Homo sapiens: one gene and its partners. The protein of the gene in region 3 interacts with the protein of the main gene of each other region in a pairwise test. Each region holds a gene or a part of one and is shown on either strand. Other genes may lie near its edges.

Evidence for each region.
Region 1: the proteins of CCHCR1 (region 3) and ZNF629 interact in binary tests that used the Homo sapiens proteins (3 or more experiments, as listed by UniProt).
Region 2: the proteins of CCHCR1 (region 3) and NME7 interact in binary tests that used the Homo sapiens proteins (3 or more experiments, as listed by UniProt).
Region 4: the proteins of CCHCR1 (region 3) and TSHZ3 interact in binary tests that used the Homo sapiens proteins (3 or more experiments, as listed by UniProt).
Region 5: the proteins of CCHCR1 (region 3) and TACC3 interact in binary tests that used the Homo sapiens proteins (3 or more experiments, as listed by UniProt).
Region 6: the proteins of CCHCR1 (region 3) and BFSP1 interact in binary tests that used the Homo sapiens proteins (3 or more experiments, as listed by UniProt).
Region 7: the proteins of CCHCR1 (region 3) and EFHC2 interact in binary tests that used the Homo sapiens proteins (3 or more experiments, as listed by UniProt).

Annotation. Positions count from the first base shown.
Region 1 is NC_000016.10:30,781,081-30,784,205, forward strand, and holds part of ZNF629 (zinc finger protein 629), read right to left. Parts: coding exon 638-3,125; 3' UTR 1-637. UniProt on the Homo sapiens protein: May be involved in transcriptional regulation.
Region 2 is NC_000001.11:169,294,798-169,298,297, forward strand, and holds part of NME7 (nucleoside diphosphate kinase homolog 7), read right to left. Parts: intron 1-3,500. UniProt on the Homo sapiens protein: Possesses an intrinsic kinase activity. Displays 3'-5' exonuclease activity with a preference for single-stranded DNA. Does not seem to have nucleoside diphosphate kinase activity.
Region 3 is NC_000006.12:31,141,939-31,144,870, reverse strand, and holds the end of CCHCR1 (coiled-coil alpha-helical rod protein 1), read left to right. Parts: intron 1-82; coding exon 83-184; intron 185-1,457; coding exon 1,458-1,609; intron 1,610-1,736; coding exon 1,737-1,908; intron 1,909-2,154; coding exon 2,155-2,279; 3' UTR 2,280-2,432; downstream 2,433-2,932. UniProt on the Homo sapiens protein: May be a regulator of keratinocyte proliferation or differentiation.
Region 4 is NC_000019.10:31,276,437-31,279,936, reverse strand, and holds part of TSHZ3 (teashirt homolog 3), read left to right. Parts: intron 1-184; coding exon 185-3,390; 3' UTR 3,391-3,500. UniProt on the Homo sapiens protein: Transcriptional regulator involved in developmental processes. Functions in association with APBB1, SET and HDAC factors as a transcriptional repressor, that inhibits the expression of CASP4.
Region 5 is NC_000004.12:1,728,021-1,731,520, reverse strand, and holds part of TACC3 (transforming acidic coiled-coil-containing protein 3), read right to left. Parts: coding exon 2,734-3,500; intron 635-2,733; coding exon 559-634; intron 350-558; coding exon 220-349; intron 1-219. UniProt on the Homo sapiens protein: Plays a role in the microtubule-dependent coupling of the nucleus and the centrosome. Involved in the processes that regulate centrosome-mediated interkinetic nuclear migration (INM) of neural progenitors.
Region 6 is NC_000020.11:17,507,380-17,510,879, forward strand, and holds part of BFSP1 (filensin), read right to left. Parts: intron 1,618-3,500; coding exon 1,510-1,617; intron 1-1,509. UniProt on the Homo sapiens protein: Required for the correct formation of lens intermediate filaments as part of a complex composed of BFSP1, BFSP2 and CRYAA. Involved in altering the calcium regulation of MIP water permeability.
Region 7 is NC_000023.11:44,333,673-44,337,172, forward strand, and holds part of EFHC2 (EF-hand domain-containing family member C2), read right to left. Parts: intron 1-3,500. UniProt on the Homo sapiens protein: Microtubule inner protein (MIP) part of the dynein-decorated doublet microtubules (DMTs) in cilia axoneme, which is required for motile cilia beating.

The DNA of each region.
Region 1 (3,125 bases), on a different chromosome or scaffold from region 3:
TTCTTCCTAGTCTCTGTCTTATCTCCTCTGGGGGCTCCAGAGCTCCTGGTCACTTATTTTTCTCCTATTTTCTTCCTTTTCAGTTCCACCCAGTTCCCACACCACTCCCCCAGCTGAGCATCTTCCTCCATGAGAACTGTCCAGGGCTGCTGGGAGAGAACATTGTGGAACAGTGAGGGAGAGGTGTTTTCTGCATCATCTGAGGGTCGTTACTCCCGGGTCAGTGCCATTGCGGTACTTCCCCGACCCTATAGGATTTTCCTAAGGATTTTGATACAATTTTATAGGGTTGTTCAGAGACATATTGGGACCTCTTCCTACAATTAATAGGGCTTTTATCCACTATGGTTTATAGGGTTTTTCTGCTACAGACTTAAAGGGCTTTTTTTTTTCCTACATATTTATAGGGTTTCTAACCCAACAGTTTTTCTCTACTGCCTTATAAGTGCTTCCCACCAACAATTTTATAGGGTTTCTCATCACTGATGTAAAAGCACTATTTTTTCCCAGGGTTCTTTCTCCTCCACTCCACTACCATCTGATAGGGTTATCCTCCCTTCCCCATGTAATTTTTTTGGGGGAAAAAATCCAGTGTTCCTCTCTGGAGAGAGCGAGGCCCCTGGTCTCCAGACCCATTTCACAGGGAGACACCTGGGTGGCAGCTCCTATGGAGCAGGAGGGCTGCGACTTCTGTGAAGCCGGCTCCACACTCGGGGCACAGATAGGGCTTTTCTTCCACTAGGGTTTTGGGGTTTTGCCCTTCCCCATGGCTGCTGCTCTCTGTGGGGGTAGGGGTCTCGCCCTCACCTTCCTGATCTGTGGACAGGGTGACTGCCTCTGGAGGGGGGTCCTCGGGATTGGGGGGTTTTTCCTGGGTGTGGGTTTCTTGGTGCCGGGTGAGGGCCACGCGGTCGAGGAAGGAGGCCCTGCAATCTGAGCAGCGGTAGGGTCTGGCCCCCAGGGGGCTCCTGAGATGCTCCAGGAGGACGGAAGAGCTCTTCCCCAGCTCTGGACTCTTCTGGGAGCTCTTCCCGCCTGCATGGACTTTCTGGTGCAGCAGCAGCTCAGAGCTGAGGCCAAAGCTTTGTTTGCATTCAGGGCATTTAAAGGGCTTCCCACTTAAGAAGGGGCTGGGCCCTGCGCCTTCCCCTAGGCCAATTCTATAATCAGGAAAGAGAAAGGGCTTTTCGTTGCCGTGGGTGAGCTGATGCTGGAGGAGCACAGAGCGATCCAGGAAGCTCTCTCCGCAGTGGGAGCAGATGTAGGTCTTGGAGGACAGCAGCCCCCGCCTCTGGCTGAAGCCCTCCTGACCCTCCGGCGGCTTAAGGGGCTGTCCGGGGGCCTCCGCTCTGCCCTCCGCAGCCCCGGGGTAGGAATTCCCTCTGAAAGGGAGCCTTGGGGATCGTAACTGAGGAGGTTTGGGGGCTGCGTGTGCGATGAGGCCGTCTGCATTTTTGTAGGGGTTTTCTCCGATGTGGATCCTCTGATGTTGCATGAAGATGCCCTCGTCGTTGAAGCCCTTTCCGCACACGAGACACTTGTGCGGCTTGGCTCCCGGCGGCGGGGTCAGCAGGGAGGGGTCCCCGAGCCCCAGCAGGCTGTCGCCCTGGGCCCTACGCGCTGGGGTCTTCCCCCTCTCATGGATCACCCGGTGCTGCTCCAGCTCGTGGGCTTCCAGGAAGGCCTTCCCGCAGTCGGAGCACACGAACAGGTTCTCGTCCATGTGCGTGCGGACGTGGGTAATAAGGTTGGAGCTCTGGCTGAAGCTCTTGCCGCACTCGGGGCACTTGTAGGGCTTCTCGCCGGTGTGCGTGCGGCGGTGCTGGATAAGGTGGGAGCTGCGGATGAAGCTCTTGCCGCAGTCGGAACACTTGTAGGGCTTCTCACCGGTGTGGATGCGCTGGTGGCGGATAAGGGTGGAGCTCATGATGAAGCTCTTGCCGCAGTCGGCGCAGATGTAGGGCCGCTCGCCGCGGTGGATGCGCTGGTGGTTGATGAGGTTGGAGCTGACGCTGAAGCTCTTGCCGCACTCTGGGCACTTGTAGGGCCGCTCGCCCGTGTGCGTGCGCTGGTGCCGCAGCAACGTGGCGCTCAGGGTGAAGGTCTTGCCGCACACTGGGCACTTGAACGGGTCCTCGCGCAGGTGAGTCCGCTGGTGCTTGATGAGGGTGGAGCTGTGGCCGAAGCTCTTGCCGCACTCTAGGCACTCGTAGGGCTTCTCGCCTGTGTGCGTGCGCTGGTGCTGGGTCAGCTCCGAGCTCTGGATGAAGCTCTTCCCGCACTCGGTGCAGCGGTATGGCTTCTCGCCCGCGTGGATCTTCTGGTGCTTGAGGAGGTTGTGGTTCTGGCCGAAGCGCTTCCCGCACTCGGGGCACTTGTAGGGTTTCTCGCCTGTGTGGGTGGCCTGGTGCTGGATGAGGTCCGAGCTGCGGTAGAAAGCCCGGCGGCACTCGCCGCACTTGTAGGGCTTCTCGCCGGTGTGGGATCGCTGGTGCTTGATGAGGTTGGTGCTCTGGGTGAAGGCTTTCTCGCACTCCGTGCACTTGTAGGGCTTCTCTCCCGTGTGCGTGCGCTGGTGCTGCACCAGGTTGGAGCTCCAGCTGAAGCACTTGCCGCAGTCGGGGCACTTGTAGGGCTTCTCGCCGGTGTGCGTGCGCTGGTGCTGCACCAGGTGCGAGCTCTGCGTGAAGCTCTTGCCGCACTCGGAGCAGGTGTTGGGCCGCTCTCCCGTGTGGATGCGCTGGTGCCGCAGCAGCTTGGACCACTGGCTGAAGCTCTTGCCGCACTCGTTGCAGATGTAGGGCTTCTCCGCCCCCGCCGGGCGGCCCTGCACCAGCTCCCGCAGGCTGGGCTCGTTGGCGGGGACGACTGGGGGGCTGTTCCATGTGGTGAGAGCGCCCCACTGCCAGCTGGCCTCGCAGGCCTTGGTCCAGTCAGATGGGGTAGGGACTACCTCCGGGGCTGGGGGGTCCAGGGGGATCTGGTGGTCCAAGGGATTGGAGTGACCCAGTGGGGTTGGGGGGTTCTGGGGGACAGAGGGGTCCTGGGAGGATCTCTCCAGGGACATCTCTGTTGAGTCCTTGGATTCTGGACTCTGAGCCGGGTCTCCCATGATGATCTCCTCC
Region 2 (3,500 bases), on a different chromosome or scaffold from region 3:
AAGACATTTCTTTAGGTGAAATGGCAATGGTAGCTGCTCTGGATTGGATGTTTGTTCCTTCCAAATCTCACGTTGAAATTTGATCCCCAATGTTGGAGATAGGGCCTAATGGGAGGTTTGGATAGTAGGGGTAAATCCCATGAATAGATTAATGCCCTCCCTCCAAGGTGAGCGAATTTTCCCTCTATTAGTTCCTCTGAAAGCTGGTTGTTAAAAACAGCCTGACACCTCTCCCGGTGGCTTGCTTCTTCTCTTACCATGTGATCTGTGCACACGCAGGCTCCCTTTTACCTTCCACCTCAGGCAGTGGAAGCTGCCTGAGACCCTCACGAGATGCAGATGCCCAATCTTGATGTCCCAGCCATCAGGACTATGAGCCAAATAAACCTTTTTCCTTTATAAATGACCCAGCCTCAGGTATTCCTTCACAGCAACACAAAATGGACTGAGACAGTAGCTAACTTAACAAAAGTTGCTCCACTACAAGATATGCTAAAATCTAACAAGTATATTTATGCTCAAATTTATTAAATAATCTAGTAGAAATAAAAAAGAAATGGATGGCATAAGGTGGTAATAGGGTGAAATAGGCAGGAAATATCAGTAAACATGGTAGTGACTTTCAGTTCAGCCTCAATTATTTCCTTCATTAATTAGATATGTTTATTATTTTTATAATGCTTTAAAATATGATTGGAAATTTAACTATACAAAACAATACCACATTTACAATAAATGTCTACTACTAAGATATGGTCAAAGACTATAATTGCTCTCTTGCATGTATCTTTAACTTCCTTAACACTTCCGTCACATTTGTTTCACAAAACCACAGCCATGGTTAAAAGCCAGCTCTCCACCTACTCCTTACCTTCAGCCATGCAGTTGAACAGGCTGGAGAACCACACTCATAGTTCATGGCCATGAACACTACATGGGCCATTAATTCAGTATAGCAATCACACACCACATTTCCCTGATCTATTCCTTTTCCAGATCACCATTTCACATATTCTTCTCTCCCTTCAGACCAACCAATACCTTATACCTCATCCTCACTTTCAGCTGTTTTGATCTTGCTTCCTACTTAAGAATCAGCATCTGTGTTCACATATTCTCCCTTCCCATCTGTTGCTATAGACGAGTACCTGAGAGGCACACCTGCCTAATCTCTCCACCTGGGTTCTAATTTCCATTTCCTTTTGCCTAATTAATGAAATTGCTCCAACAAGTCTTCCTCTTTTTCCTACATCATCAATTTTTTACCCAATACCTCTCCTCTTAAAAAAAATTGATACTACTTTTCTTGACAGCTACCACCTCATCTCTTTGCAGGAAAACTCCTCAAAAAAACTCCTCAAAAAAAAAGTTGTCTATATTCACTAACTACAATTCCCGTCCCACAATTTTCTTTTAAGTCTACTCCACACAGGGTTTTGCCTCCACCTCCCCATCAACATTCACCTTACAAAGTTCACCAATGATATCCACATTGCAAAATTTAACAATCCATTCTTAGTCCTCTTCTTACTTGCCTTATTTGACACCACTGGTCATTCTCTCATTTTAGAATATTTGATTCACTTGGCCTCCAGGACATAATTATCTCTCAGTTTTTCCTCTTACCTCTCTGGTGGCTCCTCTTCAACCTCCTTTGCTGCCTTCTTCTCCTTACCTTTTATCAAGATGTAGCTTCATCTTTGGTCCTCTTTACTTCTCTATCTATACCTTCTCCTTGGTAATCTCAACCAGTCTCCCGGCTTTAAATACCATTTATGTGCTGATAACTCTAAGCTGTCACACTAATTTTTTTCATCAGTCTAATTGGAAAACTAACAAACAGGTTAAGTTTATAAATGTCCAAAACGTTAACTCCTGATTGTCCATTCATTCTGACTCTAGCCACAGTTTTCCTCATTTCAGTTTACGTAAATTCTATCCTTCTGATAATCAGGCTAAGAACTTTGGAGTAATACTTGGTATCTTTTTCTCATACTCTACATTCAATCTAGCAGAAAATCTTGTTTATTTGACCTTCAACCGTTAATATATATTTTAAAATATATTTGTATACTTCTTTCATTATTACCACCCAGGTCCAAGCCATCATCTCACTGGGTTATTCCAACAGACTCCTGATTAGGCTCCCTGTTGCTGTTTTTGCCCTCTATAGTCATTCTTTTTTTTTTCCCCCGAGATGGAGTCTCACTCTGTCACCCAGGCTAGAGCACAGTGGCATGATCTCAGTTCACTGCAACCTCCACCTCCCTGGTTCAAGCAATTCTCCCACCTTAGCCTCTGGAGTAGCTGGGATTACAGGTGGGCGCCACCACACCCAGCTAATTTTTGTATTTTTAGTAGAAACAGGGTTTTACCATATTGGCCAGGCTGGTCTCGAACTCCTGGCCTCAAATGATCTGCCCGCCTTGGCCTCCCAAAGTGCTGGGATTACAGGTGTGAGCCACCACTCCCAGCCTCTATAGTCATTCTTAATGCAACAGCCAGAATGATCCTTTTAAATGGCAAGTGGAAGATATCAGTCCTTTGTTCAAAACCCTAAAATGGCTCTCTATTTTTTCAGAGAAAAATCTAAAAGTACTACTACGGCCTATAAGACCATATAATCTTTCCCCTAATTACCTCTGTAACCTCATCACCCTCTTCCTCCCTCTCTCATTCCTATCCAACCACACTGTCCTCTTTGCTGTTAGTTGACCATTCCAGACAGAAATATGCTATTCAAGGAATAGCGAGATGGTTAGTGTGCCTGGAACACAATGATTAAGATAGAGATTGATCAAAGATACAGTTAGAGATAGATATGGGCCAGACTAGATAGAGCATTGGAGGCCACAATAAAGACTTTAGATTTTATTCTAGAAGAGACAGAAATTCACTGAAGGGTTTTCAGCAGGTGAATGTTAATCTGATTTGTCTTTAAAAGATCACTGGGCATAGCTGATTTTACTTGGGTAAGGTAAAATTTTCATTAATTGAGTGTAAGAAAAGAGGAAAAAAGAATTTGGAGGCTATTGTAGCAGTTCTGGCAAAATATAATAGTGATTCAGACCACAATGATCAGATTCAGGGTTTATTTTGAAAGAGCTGAAGGGACTTGCTGATGAAATGGTAGGAAAAAGAAAGAAATCAATTATAAAACTGTCTAATATTGTTTCATTGCAAACACAACCAGATTAAAAACTACCTTAAGTGAGACACTTCTCACGATGCTAAAAATAAACTTACACTTCTTTAATTCAACCTCAGTATAAATCCAATAAATGCTTTATTTATATGGATTTAAAAATAAGGAGTAGAGAAACTTTCATAAACACTAGCTATATATAGGAAAATAATAGGATGTTAAGCTTGAAAGCACAGTGTTACGTCTGAATCAAAAGGAAATATCTCAAATTATATCTTCTTTTTAATATCTACTAGCCATAAACTGGTATTCTTACATGAATTCAATAATTCAAACATTTAGGAGCCTCAGTAAT
Region 3 (2,932 bases):
ATGGGTGCTTCCCTTGGAGGGTGGGGTGGGAACTGCGAATCAAAGCTCCTGCTGATATGCCCCGTCTGCACTTTCACCCCAGCCCTGCAAGAAAAGGTGGCTGAAGTGGAAACTCGGCTGCGGGAGCAACTCTCAGACACAGAGAGGAGGCTGAACGAGGCTCGGAGGGAGCATGCCAAGGCCGGTGAGCCTTGCCAGGGTGGATAGGGCCTTCCAGGAAGAAGGAAGTGTTAAGACATAAGGTTATTATTTTCCCCTCAAAGTGTGTTCAAAGCTTCATTACAGGAAGTAATGAAGGTATCCAGGAGTAGCACAGATGAATTATCACATCGTGAACACACCCATGTAGCCAGCACCAGATTAAGAAACAGCATATGGCCGGTCGCGGTGGCTTATGCCTGTAATCCAAGCACTTTGGGAGGCCGAGGTGGGTGTATCACCTGAGGTCAGGAGTTTGAGGCCAGCCTGGACAACATGGCGAAACCCTGTCTCGACTAAAAATACAAAAATTAGCTAGGCCTGGTGGTGGGCACCTGTACCCCAAGCTTACTTGTGAGGCTGATGTGGGAAGACTACATGAACCCGGGAGGTCGAGGCTGCAGTGAGCCAAGATTGTGCCACTGCACTCAAGCCTGGGTGATAGAGAAAGACCATGTGTCAAAAAAAGAATTGTGTAATGAATGTATCTTCTCTAACTAAATATAGCAGTTAACATTTGCCACATTTGGTCTCTTATCTATATACACACATATTTGTACATCTTTTGAATCACTTTAAGTTGTAATCATTTAATGTTTTGTTGTTGTTGTTGTTTGAGACAGAGTCTTCCTCTGTCACCAGCTGGAGTGCAGTGGCATGATCTTGGCTCACTGTGACCTCTGCCTCCCGGGTTCAAGCCATTCTCCTGGCTCAGCCTCCCAAGTAGCTGGGATTACAGGCGCCCACCACCATGCCCAGCTAGTTTTTGTATTTGCAGTAGAGACGGGATTACACCATGTTGGCCAGGATGGTCTCGAGCTCCTAACCTCGTGATCCGCCCGCCTTGGCATCCCAAAGTGCTGGGATTATAGGCGTGAGCCACCACGCCTAAGTAAGTTGTAAACATAAGTTGTTCAGCCGCATCTCCCAAAGCCAGTAAATTCTCCTATATAGCTGCAATCATCACACTTTAAGACAGTGAACACTAATTGCACAAAATCTAACCCAGTTCATGTTCAGATTTCCCCTGAGGAACTCCAGGATGGTTCAGGGATGAGGAAGATACTTAGGTTCAGATTCCCAGGCTCCTAGAGCATCAGCCCACCCCTCCAACTGTACAGAAGAGACAGATCCACAGAGCAGAACAGCCTCCCCAAGCCACAGAGTTGGTGACCCAGCGTTTGTTCCTGTCTTCATGGTGCCTGGCTGCCTCTGGCCTGACTCACACCTGCCTCCTCTGTGCCTTGGCCTCTCTGTAGTGGTCTCCTTACGCCAGATTCAGCGCAGAGCCGCCCAGGAAAAGGAGCGGAGCCAGGAACTCAGGCGTCTGCAGGAGGAGGCCCGGAAGGAGGAGGGGCAGCGACTGGCCCGGCGCTTGCAGGAGCTAGAGAGGGATAAGAACCTCATGCTGGTAGGAGACAGGAGGGCAGACAGGCAGACACTAGGGCCCATCCTGGGCTGGTTCCTGGGCTAGAGGTGTGGAAAGAGGATGGTGAGGGAGGCTCTATCCGGGCTAGGTTTAACCCTCTCCTTCCCAGGCCACCTTGCAGCAGGAAGGTCTCCTCTCCCGTTACAAGCAGCAGCGACTGTTGACAGTTCTTCCTTCCCTACTGGATAAGAAGAAATCTGTGGTGTCCAGCCCCAGGCCTCCAGAGTGTTCAGCATCTGCACCTGTAGCAGCAGCAGTGCCCACCAGGGAGTCCATAAAAGGTCTTGGGCCAAGCACAAAGGGACAAGGGACAAATGCGCGCACTTCAGGAATCTCCTCTTCAGACTCTCGCATGATGAGTGTTGTTCTCTGCGGTCCTTCGAGGCCCTTAGCCTCTTTTAGCGATGCCCAGCTTGGACCAAAGAGCCTCCTCTCTCCCATTCCTCATTTCCTGTGCCAGCCCTGTTTCCTCTGTAACCACGAGCACCTTCCCTTGTCTGGTGCTCATCTGCTGTCTTCCTTCCCAGGGTCCCTCTCTGTCCTGCTCGATGACCTGCAGGACCTGAGTGAAGCCATTTCCAAAGAGGAAGCTGTTTGTCAAGGAGACAACCTTGACAGATGCTCCAGCTCCAATCCCCAGATGAGCAGCTAAGCAGCTGACAGTTGGAGGGAAAGCCAGCCTGGGGGCTGGGAGGATCCTGGAGAAGTGGGTGGGGACAGACCAGCCCTTCCCCATCCTGGGGTTGCCCTGGGGGATACCAGCTGAGTCTGAATTCTGCTCTAAATAAAGACGACTACAGAAGGAGCCATTGTTTGGAAATGTTATTTCTGGGAATCTGTGGGAATTCTCCCTGCAGCCATCTCTCTTGGAGATTGTGAGAAGTGGTCCCACCCATAGCTCTCTCTATGGGTGGCACCTTTTCAAATCCTTTTTCTAGGCAGCTTTGGAAATGTTTGGGAAGCTCCTGCTTTTCTTTATTCTCAACTTTTGTTTTAAAACTCTTTTCTTCTGGAAGATGATAAATGCTAGGAGTGGGGAAGATGAAACATTCACTCGTTCAACAGGAATGTCAGAGCTAGGCACTGTATTAGCCTGGGGGCCACTTGGACCCTGAGAGCCTACATCCTAGTGGGAGAGCGAGCGAGCAGATGGGACCTAAACAGATGAACGAGATCGTTTCAAATAAGTGCTTGAAGAGAAAGTACAGTACGATGATATGATAGAAACTGACTCTGGGGAGAGGCCTCTGAGCAGGGGACCTTGTGCAGAGGCCTGCCTGAAGTGGGCTCCTGTGGAGGCCAGGA
Region 4 (3,500 bases), on a different chromosome or scaffold from region 3:
ATTTTAACTGTTTAATTTTACAAATACATGTACCCATCTGGGTTGCTGTGTTTTCCTGAGAGCCCAGAACATATTCTAGGTAAGATCAACAAGTACTAATGCTTTTTTTTTTCTTTCTCTCCTTCTCCCTGTCTCTCTTCATTCCATCCTACCTGTCTCTCTTTCCCACCTGTTATCATGGCAGCCTATGTTTCCGAAGAGTTAAAGGCTGCTGCCCTGGTGGACGAAGGTTTAGACCCAGAGGAGCATACGGCAGATGGAGAGCCCTCGGCCAAGTACATGTGCCCGGAGAAGGAGCTCGCCAGGGCCTGCCCCAGCTACCAGAACTCCCCGGCCGCCGAGTTTTCCTGCCATGAAATGGACAGCGAGTCACACATCAGTGAGACCAGTGACCGAATGGCTGACTTTGAAAGCGGCTCCATCAAGAACGAAGAGGAGACCAAGGAGGTCACGGTCCCACTGGAAGACACGACTGTGTCGGATAGCCTGGAGCAGATGAAGGCCGTGTACAACAACTTCCTCTCCAACTCCTACTGGTCCAACCTCAACCTCAACCTGCACCAGCCCTCCTCGGAGAAGAACAACGGCAGCAGCAGCAGCAGCAGTAGCAGCAGCAGCAGCTGTGGCAGCGGGAGCTTCGACTGGCACCAGAGCGCCATGGCTAAGACGCTGCAGCAGGTGTCACAGAGCCGCATGCTCCCGGAGCCCAGCCTCTTCAGCACCGTGCAGCTGTACCGGCAGAGCAGCAAGCTCTATGGCTCCATCTTCACGGGGGCCAGCAAGTTCCGCTGTAAGGACTGCAGCGCTGCCTACGACACCCTGGTGGAGTTGACGGTGCACATGAACGAGACGGGGCATTACCGCGACGACAACCATGAGACCGATAACAACAACCCCAAGCGCTGGTCCAAGCCTCGCAAACGCTCCTTGCTGGAAATGGAAGGGAAGGAAGACGCCCAGAAGGTGCTGAAGTGCATGTACTGTGGCCACTCCTTTGAGTCCCTGCAGGATTTGAGTGTCCATATGATCAAAACAAAACACTACCAAAAAGTGCCTCTGAAGGAACCCGTCACTCCTGTCGCCGCCAAAATCATCCCTGCCACTCGGAAGAAAGCTTCCCTGGAGCTGGAGCTCCCCAGCTCCCCAGATTCCACAGGTGGAACCCCCAAAGCCACCATCTCAGACACCAACGATGCACTTCAGAAGAACTCCAACCCTTACATCACGCCAAATAATCGGTACGGCCACCAGAATGGGGCCAGCTATGCATGGCACTTTGAGGCCCGGAAGTCGCAGATCCTGAAGTGCATGGAGTGTGGGAGCTCGCATGACACCCTGCAGGAGCTCACTGCCCACATGATGGTCACTGGCCACTTCATCAAGGTCACCAACTCTGCTATGAAAAAGGGGAAGCCCATTGTGGAGACGCCTGTCACACCTACCATCACAACCCTGCTGGATGAGAAGGTCCAGTCCGTGCCCCTGGCAGCCACCACCTTCACGTCCCCCTCCAATACACCTGCCAGCATCTCCCCAAAACTGAATGTGGAGGTCAAGAAGGAAGTCGACAAGGAGAAAGCGGTCACTGACGAGAAACCTAAGCAAAAAGACAAGCCTGGCGAAGAAGAGGAGAAGTGTGACATCTCTTCCAAATACCATTACTTGACTGAAAATGACTTAGAAGAGAGTCCCAAGGGGGGGCTTGATATCCTCAAATCCTTGGAAAACACAGTGACATCCGCAATCAACAAGGCCCAGAACGGCACTCCTAGCTGGGGGGGCTATCCCAGCATCCATGCCGCCTACCAACTTCCCAACATGATGAAGTTGTCCCTGGGCTCGTCGGGGAAGAGCACGCCCCTGAAACCCATGTTTGGCAACAGTGAGATTGTCTCCCCGACGAAAAACCAGACCCTGGTCTCTCCACCCAGCAGCCAGACGTCCCCCATGCCCAAGACAAACTTTCATGCCATGGAGGAGCTGGTGAAAAAGGTCACTGAGAAAGTTGCCAAAGTGGAGGAGAAGATGAAGGAGCCGGATGGGAAGCTTTCCCCGCCCAAGCGGGCCACTCCCTCCCCATGTAGCAGCGAAGTCGGGGAACCCATCAAGATGGAGGCATCCAGCGATGGGGGCTTCCGCAGCCAGGAGAACAGCCCCAGCCCCCCGCGGGATGGGTGCAAGGATGGGAGCCCCCTCGCTGAGCCGGTGGAGAATGGCAAGGAGCTGGTGAAGCCCCTAGCCAGCAGTTTGAGTGGCAGCACGGCCATCATCACCGACCACCCGCCTGAACAGCCTTTTGTTAACCCTTTGAGCGCCCTGCAGTCAGTCATGAACATTCACCTGGGCAAGGCCGCCAAGCCCTCCCTGCCTGCCCTGGACCCCATGAGCATGCTTTTCAAGATGAGCAACAGCCTGGCGGAGAAGGCTGCTGTGGCCACCCCGCCGCCCCTGCAGTCCAAGAAGGCAGACCACCTCGACCGCTATTTCTACCACGTCAACAACGACCAGCCCATAGACTTGACAAAAGGGAAGAGTGACAAAGGCTGCTCCTTGGGTTCAGTGCTTCTGTCACCCACGTCCACAGCCCCGGCAACCTCCTCATCCACGGTGACAACGGCAAAGACATCTGCCGTCGTATCATTCATGTCAAACTCGCCGCTACGCGAGAATGCCTTGTCAGATATATCCGATATGCTGAAGAACTTGACAGAGAGCCACACGTCAAAATCCTCCACTCCTTCCAGCATCTCCGAGAAGTCTGACATTGACGGGGCCACTCTGGAGGAGGCTGAGGAGTCGACGCCCGCCCAGAAGAGGAAGGGCCGCCAGTCAAACTGGAACCCCCAGCACCTCCTGATCCTCCAGGCCCAGTTTGCCGCCAGCCTCCGGCAGACCTCAGAAGGGAAGTACATCATGTCAGACCTGAGCCCCCAGGAGCGGATGCATATCTCCAGGTTCACCGGGCTGTCCATGACCACCATCAGCCACTGGCTGGCCAACGTGAAATACCAGCTTCGAAGGACAGGTGGAACAAAGTTCCTCAAAAACTTGGACACTGGCCACCCCGTCTTCTTTTGTAACGATTGTGCGTCCCAAATCAGGACTCCTTCCACGTACATCAGTCACCTAGAGTCACACTTAGGCTTCCGGCTACGGGACTTATCCAAACTGTCCACCGAACAGATTAACAGTCAGATAGCACAAACCAAGTCACCGTCAGAAAAAATGGTGACGTCCTCCCCCGAGGAAGACCTGGGGACTTCCTATCAGTGCAAACTTTGCAATCGGACCTTTGCCAGCAAGCACGCTGTTAAACTTCACCTTAGCAAAACACACGGGAAATCTCCGGAAGACCACCTTCTGTATGTCTCTGAGTTAGAGAAGCAGTAGCATTTGCTTTTGATAGAAAGGACTGCAGTTTGCTTTGAGGGAAACTGTGGAAGGCACCTTCAGGCCCCCTCTGACTTGTTGTTCTTGGCACATGTTCTTATTTTAACTGC
Region 5 (3,500 bases), on a different chromosome or scaffold from region 3:
TTTCTAGAAGTCTTTTATGTTAAAGGTATGAGCCCTGCTCTCCTAACACTGACTAAGTTTTGACAAACCACAAGTTTGTGCATGAGTCATTCAAAGTCAAGGGACCCAACTGCCTGCGAAATGACCACCTGCCGATGATGCAGGTGTCTCGAGCTGCCCAAGTGCTCACGGGATCCCCTCCGGGCAGACTGTGTGTGACGTCTGTGCCAGGCAACGTACCCTCAGCGGGGTCTCTGAAGCTCTCCTCTTTCAGCTCCAAGGCAGGCTGCCCCTGCTGATGGGTGGGCACTGGCTCACTGCCTGGACAGCTTGTGGGAAGCGAGGTGCTGGCAGAGTTCAAGGCTCTCTCCTGGAGGAAAGGGCAGAGTCACCCTGTGCAGTGCAGTCAAGGTACTTGGGGTGTGGCTTTGCCTCCCCACAACCTTGTTGAAGTAGACTTGGGGGAGAGGGAGCGGGACATCCCACCCCGTCACCCAAGGCTGCTGGGGGCTTCCACTGCCTGCTACTCTTCTACACGACCAGGCCAGGAGCACAGGTACCCACACAAGCACCCCTTACCTTGCTCTCTGCTGTTGGGGTCTCGGCTGCCAACTGCACCACAGGCGTGTCCTCCGCTGAGGCTGAATGCAGCTGCCTGGGGAGACAGAGTCAGCAGAGGCCCATGCCCCCCACCCCATAACCCCGGCGTCCCCTGCTCCAGCACTGAGCTGCCATCGCCTTTCCCTGCACTGCTGTGCCGGCCACGTGAACATTCAGCTAGAGCGTGCCAGGCATGGGGCTGTCCCAAGCGACCTGGCCACAAAACTGCCTCACCAACCTCACCCAGCAGGAAAACACGCGCCTTGCCTGCCAGCTCTGGGAGAAGCAGGCTGGGAGCTCTAAAGTCAGCACGATGCAGCCAAAGGGAATCACAAGGATGAGTACATCCCTTTTACTGTGAAACTGACAAAAGGCTTCAAATGTGGAGGCTGGGGCAGGTGTGGGCAGCAAGCCACCCAGGGGCCAAGGCAAGACACCAAGGGCACAAGCTGTTCCAGTATCATAAATATACAGAATAAGAATAGTTATACTAGAAATAGATTATAGATATGATTATATATGAATATCGTTAATCATTAGTTTGTAGCTTTACTCTTTATTCTAATATTATAATAATCTTTGTTCTACAATAATAACCTAGGAAACGCCGGGTGCGGTGGCTCACGCATGTAATCCCAGCACTTTGGGAGGCCGAGGCGGTCGGATCACGAGGTCATATCTAGACCATCCTGGCTAACACGGTGAAACCCCGTCTCTACTAAAAAATACAAAAAAATTAGCCGGGCATGGTGGCGGGTGCCTGCAGTCCCAGCTACTCGGGAGGCTGAGGCAGGAGAATGGTGTGAACCCGGGAGGCAGAACTCGCAGTGAGGCGAGATCACGCCACTGCGCTCCAGCCTGGGTGACAGAGCGAGACTCTGTCTCAAAAAACAAACAAACAAACAAATAACCCTAGGAAAAACCAGGCCATATAGAGATAGGAGGTGAAGGCACACGGTGAGAAAGTGACCGGAAGAGGTGTGTGAGCCCTCTGTCACGCCCGGACAGGGCCACTGGAGGGCTCCCTGGTCTAGCGGTAACACCAGCACTTGGGAAGGCACCCGTTACCTAGCTTGGTCTAGCGGTAGCACCAGTGCCTGGGAAGGCACCCGTTAATTAGACTGGGAAAGGGAGTCTCCCTTTCCCTGGGGGAGTTAGAGAAGACTCTGCTCCACCATCTCTTGTGGAATCAGTCAGGCCCGCCCGCAGCCATCCAGAGGCCTGTGTCCCTGTGATGCTGTGCTTCAGCAGTCACGCTCCTGGTCCACTTTCATGATCCGCTCTGTACACCTGGCTCTGTCTTCTAGATAGCAGTAGCAGAATTAGTCAAAGTGCTAAAGTCTTTGAAATACATAGAAAAAATAATGGCGTCAGCTGTCCTCTCTCTCCGCCTTGGCTGCCAAACAGGGAAGGGCCCAGTGGACACGTGACTTGCGTGACCTGACCTATCATTGGAGATGGCTCACACTCCTTAACCTGTCCCCTTGCCTTGTATCCAATAAGTAACAGCGCAGCCAGACATTCGGGGCCATTACCGATCTCCGTGCCTTGGTGGTAGTGGTCCCCCGGGCCCAGCTGTCTTTTCTTCTGTCTTTTTCTTGTGTCTTTATTTGTACAATCTCTTGTCTATGCACACGAGGAGAAAAAACCCACAGACCCAGTAGGGCTGGACCCTACAGGCAGGACAATCTCCCACTGAGCAACTCTAGGAGATGTAGCCTAAGACCATTCAGCCAGGAGGCAGCAGACCCACGGCCAAGACCCCAGCAAGCAGCGGACGCCACCCAGGCAGTAACAGGCTTTGCCTGGCTTTTGGAGTTACACACCCAAGTCAAGTTCACCTGAGGAGGAACATGACTGGGGGACAGGGTCCTGCCCAGGGTTGGTTGCATTTGGCTTCTGGCCTGAGCCCGCCCTTATTGGATCCCTCCTTAGGCCAGGAGCACTAAAGAGATGCATGGCAGCCAAGGCAAGGCCAAGCACCCTCAGCTGGGAGCCACCTGAGCCCTGTTTTTATCCAGAGGCCCCTCCTCAGGCAGAACCTACCCGGCCTCAAAGGAGTATCTGATGACACTTCTGGCCTCGGGTCCTGGACCACATACACTGCAGGGCAGCTGCCCCACGCCACGCTCCCCATCCCATCCTCACACTTACTGGCTCAGACAGGGACCTGGCTCCTCCGTGGCAGGCCCAGCATGCAACTGTTCAGCCGCTGGCTGGCCCAGCCTGGTCTCAGGGCTTTCTGGGGGCTGGGCCTCACTGCAACCAGACTTGGTGTCACCTCCGAACGGGATGAAGTTTGGGTCATCCATTTTGTCCCAGTCGAGGTGGTAAGAGCCCCGAGAAGCTGGCATGGGGGGGTCCTCTCCTGCTCCGCTCCTACCGTCGTCCTCCTCCACCTCCTGCGGGGCCTTTTGCTGCCTCACTGCTGCTTTCCTCAAGGGAGGCTTGAGGCCGGACCTCTCTCCCAGTCTCCTTGGTGGGGGTGCCCTTTTGCTGGTGGCGCCATCAGATACATCAAATTCTAGTTTTACAGGTCCGCTCCTCGAGGAGCTGGCCATTTGGCCTGCAGCCACTTCTTCCTGAGGACTCAGGGTCATGGCCCTGCCAGCCACCAGGTGGTTGGTTGGGGCTGTGCTCTCAGGAGCAGAGGTGTGTGCACAGGTAAGGGTCTGAGTGCCATCTGCTGGCACGGGGGTGCCCACACCCGCAGGGCAGCCCAGGGCTTCGCCAGGCAGACCCTGCAGGGGTGCTCCTCCGCAGGCTTCCTTAGGGATTGCACCAGGAGGCGAAGTGGCCACTGCTGCGGGAGCACAGACCCCACCGTGCCGGCATTCCTCCTCGGCTCCGTGCGGAGTCTCCGCTTTGCATTCTTCCTCGGCTCCGTGCGGAGTCTCCGCTTTGTGCTGGGACTCTGTCCT
Region 6 (3,500 bases), on a different chromosome or scaffold from region 3:
TGTACACTCTGTTTTTCTTATTATATTTTAGTCTAGCATTTTGTTGACTTCCTTTTACATGCCAGTCAATTCTACTGAGTTCATTTTACATCCAAAAATGAGTTGTCACTAGCCATTTGGAAAACACTGGTCTCTAGGACCACGACTGGGCTTGTATCCACGTCCCTATTCACATACACAGCACACACACATACACATGACACACACACACCACACACACTTCACATACACATCCCACATATATCACACATACCATGTATATCACACACACACACCCCATGTACACAAACACATACAACCCTTATTCTATCCTGTCAGAGCCTCAGAAGAAACCACACAGGCCCCAGTCACCAGGATGAGGCACATGGTCCCTGAGCCAGGGTTTGTCTCACAAGAAGGAGGAGTTTTAAGTGCCTTACTTGGTTCCTCCTGCTGCGATCGTCAGTTCAGGGGACCACCACAGACCCGGGTTTGCTTTCCAGCAGCCCCTGAGAGCTGCTGCACTGTGAGTTTTGTGTGGTGCGTGCTGGGATGGGAATTAGGATGTGAACTCCAAGGTCCCAAAATGAAATCCTGAGCAGACATGGGGGCACTGGAAATCAATAAAAAGCGCTACATCTAGTTGTGGCTTCACATTTTTAGACAGAGTAACACATAACATCCAAATGGTCCAGGCTTTCTGAAGTGTCCGATTTTTACACGTTTTGCTCTCTTGTCCCCATGTGTACTTGTCAAACCAAATGTCAACTTACTTTTTGGTTTGGGAAATGTGGTTAGAGAGCCATACAAAGGTGCAGTATTTTAACCCAAGCGTCCCTGTGGAATGACCTGCTGTAGGGTAATGAGAAAGAGAGAGAACCGGAAGGAACAAAGAAGATGAGCCGGCAAGTAGCCAAGAAGGCACAGGCCACAGGACAGTTTGGGGCTTTTCTGTTTTGTTTTCAAATTAAGCTTCACCCAAAAGGGGTGGGGGTAGAAATGTGAGCTTTCCACCAACACGTTTCTAACTAGAAGCAAACACTGATACAACCACTCTTGCCGGGTTGTAATCAAATTCCGAAGGAGAACTGTTACCATGAGAAGGAAAACAGAAGCACAGATTTGAACAAGTGGAGGATAAAAATCCCTATGGTGTCCGTTTCTTCTTATTCTTACGAAGCTTGACCTGGGCAAAATGAATGCATGATGTAGACACTGGGGCAGCCTAAGCCTAAGACTCGGTGGGGAGGGCATGACTCGAAGGAGTCCCAAGGGGCACCTCTGAGGGGCCAGGAATGAGCGTGGCACCTGTGTCCCCCAGCTCAGGACTCTCCCTGTGTCCTGGAAAACTCCTCAGTCCAGGCCAGAGCAGAGCGCTTGGCCACCCACTCAGAAAACCCCGTTTCTGCCAGGAACATAGGATATGTTCAGCGTGTGACAGCTCCTCAAGCTGCATGCGTGTGCCTGCGCGTAACACCTCCATGAAACATGTGGGAAGCCCCAATGCACACGCGGCAGACTCGAGCGTACCTGTGCCTGCAGCTCCACTCTCTGCGCCTGCAGGTGGGAGAGCACCTCCCGGCCCTCCTCCAGCTGACTCCGCAGGGCGGCCACCTCCCGCTCCGTCAGGAGCTTCTCCTGCACAGAGAAGGCCAGAGTCAGACTCATGGGACATGCAGAGAGGAAAAGGGCAGAGAAGGTGCGGGGCCCTGGTATGGACGGAATATCCGTGTCCCCCTGAATTCTGTGTTGAAGCCCTAACTAACTCCCAAGATGAAGGTTTTAGGAGACCTTTGGAAGGTGTTAGGGTTAGATGAGGTCATGAGGATGGGGGGCCCCATCATGTGATTAGGGTCTTTGTAAGAACAAGAAGAGACACCAGAGCCCCCACCCCCACCCCCTGTCTGTCTGTCACGTGAGACACAGCAAGAAGGCAGCCGTCTTCAAGCCAGAAAGAGAGCCCTCACCAGACACCAATTCTGCTGGCATCTTGATCTTGGACTTCCAGCACCCAGGACAGTGAGAAGTAAATGTCTGCCTGTCGGCCCTCCCATCTGTAGTGTCCTGTTATAGTAGCCTGAGAAGACTAAGCCAGGCCCACAGCACAGCCATCAATGCCTTTTGCTTTGTCTTCAAAGTCTGAACCTCCTTGGGAGTGTGACATGCCGGGACCAAGTACCAGGAGACCAGAGCTTAGACCTGGCTGTGCCATGAACCTACTAAGAGACTCTAGAAAAGGATTTGACTCTCAAAGCCTCTGTTTTCCCTTCTGTGAAAGGGAAAACCTGGAATGCACACTCTCGAAGAAAATGAAGGCTGGTTGGAGCCGCGAGCCATACGCTGTGCTCGGATGTCAGCGCAGCACAAAGCAGGAGCCATCAGCCCCAGTGGGTGAAAGGGAAGTGACGCTCCAGGGAATGGCTAGAAGGAAATCCTCTGACCTCTCCACACTCTGCCAAGCAGGTCCCTCTCTCCTGACCTGCCTTTCCACGTCTATTCAAAAATATTCAAATTGTTTCACAAAGGCCTGACTGCTCAAGAGCCATGCATTCTGACACAGAGCACATTGACTCGAAGCCATGCAAAATCAAACACCAAGTCTACAATGAGGGTTTCTGTGTCCAGAGGCTGCATGGAAGACAGCCTCTGCTTCAAACACCTTACAAAGTGGCTGCAGCAATGACATAGACATACAGGAAAGTGACCGTCTAACTTGATTGTAGAATTGCTAAGCTAAGACTCATAAAGATGTGACACTTTCTCAATCGGTGCTTCTCTATCCTGAGCATGCACACGAGTCCCTGCGGATCTGGCTAAGATGCAGATTCTGCCTCAGTGGGTCTGAGGCTGGACTGGACACTCTGCACGTCTCACAAGCCCAGACGATGCTGATCGATGACATCAAAGTCAGTTTAGTGTCTGTATACTTATGACTTAGAAGGGTCTTATTACATGGGAATAGATGATACAATTCAAAAGGTATGCTCGGATGTAAAACACCTTTGAGTTAGAGTTGGGTTTGAAAAATAAAAGTAACATCTCTGGAAAGGAATCTCTGGGAAAGAAAATTAAGGCTTCAGGAAAAGTTTTTTTAGGCCTTTGTAGCAACATCAGTTACATCCACTAAGGAGAACAGGATCCTGAAATGGTAACTGGTGGGCAATTCAGACAAGACTATCCTCATGAATGCCAAAAAAAGTAACTTTCCTGTCGCTTAGATGATACTTTGCAGGGTTCAAAAGTGTCTTCTAAAGCAAATTTGGGGATTTCTTTAGCTTTGTATAAAATAATTAAGACGAAAAAGTTCAGGCAGCCGGTGACCCCAGCCCATGGGTTCTGCAGCAGTTTGTCTGCATGCTGGTCCTGGGCAGGCCCCACCTCCTGGGAAGCCCATTCATTGACTCGGAGCATGGCCTGAGCACACATCTAGGCAATTTCAAGTGTCACCAGGGTTGAGAGCCACCATCCTAGGTCATCCTTGCAAAAAGACCCAGAACCTTATCTCTTGACCAATCCACCAA
Region 7 (3,500 bases), on a different chromosome or scaffold from region 3:
GAACCCTCTTTTCCCTTTCCCACCTCCAAAAGTAGATGGTGAAAAAAAAAACAAGATAATTTCCCAGCATTCCTTGTAGTAAAGGATGGCCATGTGCATCAATTTTAGCAAATAAGATGGAAGGAGGGAATCTACTGGGGGGCTCCTGGAAAACATTTTGTTTTCTCATATAAGAAGAGCTGTTTCCCCTCCCTCTCCTTCCTGCTTGTCTTGAACATGGTTACATGTAGTTGTGATGACTGGAACTGAGGCAACTATTTTGCAACTATGAGGTCACAAGCCTAAGAAAGAAAAGCCAATATTCTGAAGATGGCAGAATGCAGAGATAAAAAGAGCCTGGGTTCTTTATGACATTCATCAGTCACTGCCTAAATCTGAAACTGCTACACCTCTAAAGTTCTTATGAGAAAATTAATTTGGCTTAAACCACTGTTAGTCAGGTATTCTGTGACTTATAGTCAAATGTACCCTAGGTGACAGAGCTACGAAGTTCAGTACAGAATGCATGGTGACCAAAATTAGGTGTTTGAATCCTACATAGGCAAAGAGACTCTAATTCCTGAAATTCAAATGAACATTTAGGAATAGCAATGGAATATGTTATTTCCAAAGTATGGATGGCAGCTTCAATAAGCGGCCCAATCTGAAATAATGTAATTTCAAGGATATTTTAATAGTTACTGGGAACAAAGTGACAGAATTCTTTATATCAAAACTATCCTGTGATCTAGCATAGTAGACAGCAATTGTTTTGTCTGCCCAGCAATCCCATACCACCAAAACTGGATTATTTGCCTTTTTGTTTGTTTGTTGGCTTTTTGAAATGAAGTTGCACTCTTGTTGCCCAGGCTGGAGTGCAATGGTGCGATCTCGGCTCACCACAACCTCTGCCTCCCAGGTTCAAGTGATTCTCCTGTCTCAGCCTCCCGAGTAGCTGGGATTACAGGCATGCGCCACCACGCCCGGCTAGTTTTGTATTTTTAGTAGAGACAGGTTTCTCCATGTTAGTCAGGCTGGTCTCAAACTCCTGACCTCAGGTGATCCGCCTGCCTCAGCCTCCCAAAGTGCTGGGATTACAGGCATGAGCCACCGCACCTGGCCTATTTGTCTTTTTATTATTGAGTTTTGGGAGTTATTTACATATTCTGAATATAGTCCCTTATCAGATAATATGCTTTATAAATATTTCCTCCCACACTGTCAGCTGCTTTTTCACTTTTCTGATAGTGTCTTTTGAAGCACAGTTTGGCTATTTATTGCAACATTATTGGATAACAAAAGACTGGAAATAATGTAACTGTACACCAAAAGGGGATGGTTGAATAAACTATTGTAAGTCTACAAAATGGAGTACTATGTAACTATAAAAAGAAATGAGGAAGAGCCCTATATACCACTACCAAGTGATCTCCAAGATATACTGTTAAAATGAAAAAAGGAAGGTTCAAAAGACTGTGTAGATTATGCTACCAAGTATTGAATAAAAGGGGAACATGTGAATAAATTTAACAATTTGCTGTTTTAAAAATTAAAAAAAAAAGAAAGAAGAGAAGGAGGAAGAGAAAGAGGATAACCTCAAACTAAATAAAGTTTTTTCTTTAAGTTATTATGGAGAGAGGGAGAGAATAAGATTGAAGAGACAGAGATAAAAGCTAGAGCTCTCTGAAAGTAACTTACTTTGCAAATTTGACTTTGAGACCATACAAATGCCTTTTTTTAAGTTCAGAAACAAAAGCACAATGAAACAAATGAACCTAACTAGATACTGAGTTGGTGACTTAACCATACCGACAGCAATGATTTAAATGAAACTAAAACCCAGTAATTTGACTATACATTCCTGGTGGGATATACTCTCACAACAGAAATAGCTATAAAGAAATCTTAAACTATTTTCAAAACTCAAATTGTTAATAATGTTATTATTAATTAAAAATTATTATATGGTTGTATATTTTTATTTATGTTAGGATAAGTAATTCAGCTAATGTACTTATGAAGCAAGATTACATGTAAATATATAAAATCAAAGAAGTAAAAACCCTATAATCCTTAATTTGCATTGAAAACAATAGTTTTTGAACTCATGTTATATTTTATCCTTAAATATATGTACATATTTTTTAGCCTTGCTTTAAGAGAATGAAAATTCAAGCCATAGACTGGAACAAAATATTTACAGACCATACATTCAATAATAGACTTGCACCCAACTTGTATCCAGACTATATTAAAAATGACTTTCAAAACTCATCAGGCGGATCGCCTGAGGTCAGGAATTCAAGTAAGGAAACTCCCCAATTAAATATGAGTAGAAGACACGAACAGACATTTCACCAAAGGGGATATACGGATGGCAAATAAGCACATAAAAAGATGTTCAACATCATAGCCATTAGGGAAATAAAAATTAAAATCAAGAGGAGATACCAGGCCGGGTGTGGTGGCTCAGGCCTGTAATCTCAGCACTTTGGGAGGCCGAGGTGGGTGGATCACCTGAGGTCAGGAGTTCAAGACCAGCCTGGCCAACATGGTGAAACCCCGTCTCTACCCAAAATACAAAAATTAGCCGGGCGTGGTGGCACACACCTGTAATCTCAGCTACTCGGGAGGCTGAGGCAGAAGAATAGCTTGAACTGGGAGGCAGAGGGTTGCAGTGAGCCAAGATCGCGCCACTACACTCCCCTGGGCGACAGAGTGAGACTCAGTCTCAAAAAAAAAAAAGAGAGAGAGAGAAAAGAGGAGATACCACTATACACCTATTAAAATGGCTAAAATCCAAAACACTGGCAATACCAATTGCTTACAAGGATTTGGAATAACAGAAATTCTCAATCATTGCTGGTGGGAATGCAAAATGGTAATTTCTTATCAAGATAAACACACACCTACCATATGGCCAGTTCAAAATTTACATAAAAGTAAGCATCCTGCCATTCATAGGAGAGCAATGACCATTTTGCTATAATTTTCAACTTCTTATACATGTAAGCAAAGCTTTCCTTGTTTAACAAGTATTGAAAAGGCCAGAAATCTTCTCATTCCAGTTGAAAATGAAATTGATGTGTGCTTATTTCAAGCTTGACCCGGAATTATTTATGTGGCAAAATATAAACACAGATTTCAGAGTGGAGAGGTAAATTTTATTATTTATTTTTAGCTTTTAAAAAATAAGACTGTTATGTACATACAGGTCTATAAAGAAATCAAGATTATAATTTTGTAACTGCCTATATTTAAGCCCAATCATGTCAGTCAGTAAAAGAACCTAATTTTTAAGTCTTGTATAAAATTATATCTTAGGTTATATTTTTACTCATAATGCTTTGTCATATAGTTTTAGTAGCTTTATTATGTAACATTGTCAATACATTTTGATGTTGAAAACAGCATTAATTACGAGTTTACAACCTTTATTTAAATTAAATCATCTTAGCCTACTTTTTGAAAAAGTAAATTCCATCTTAGATATAAACAGAAATAACTTGAATTATTTAACA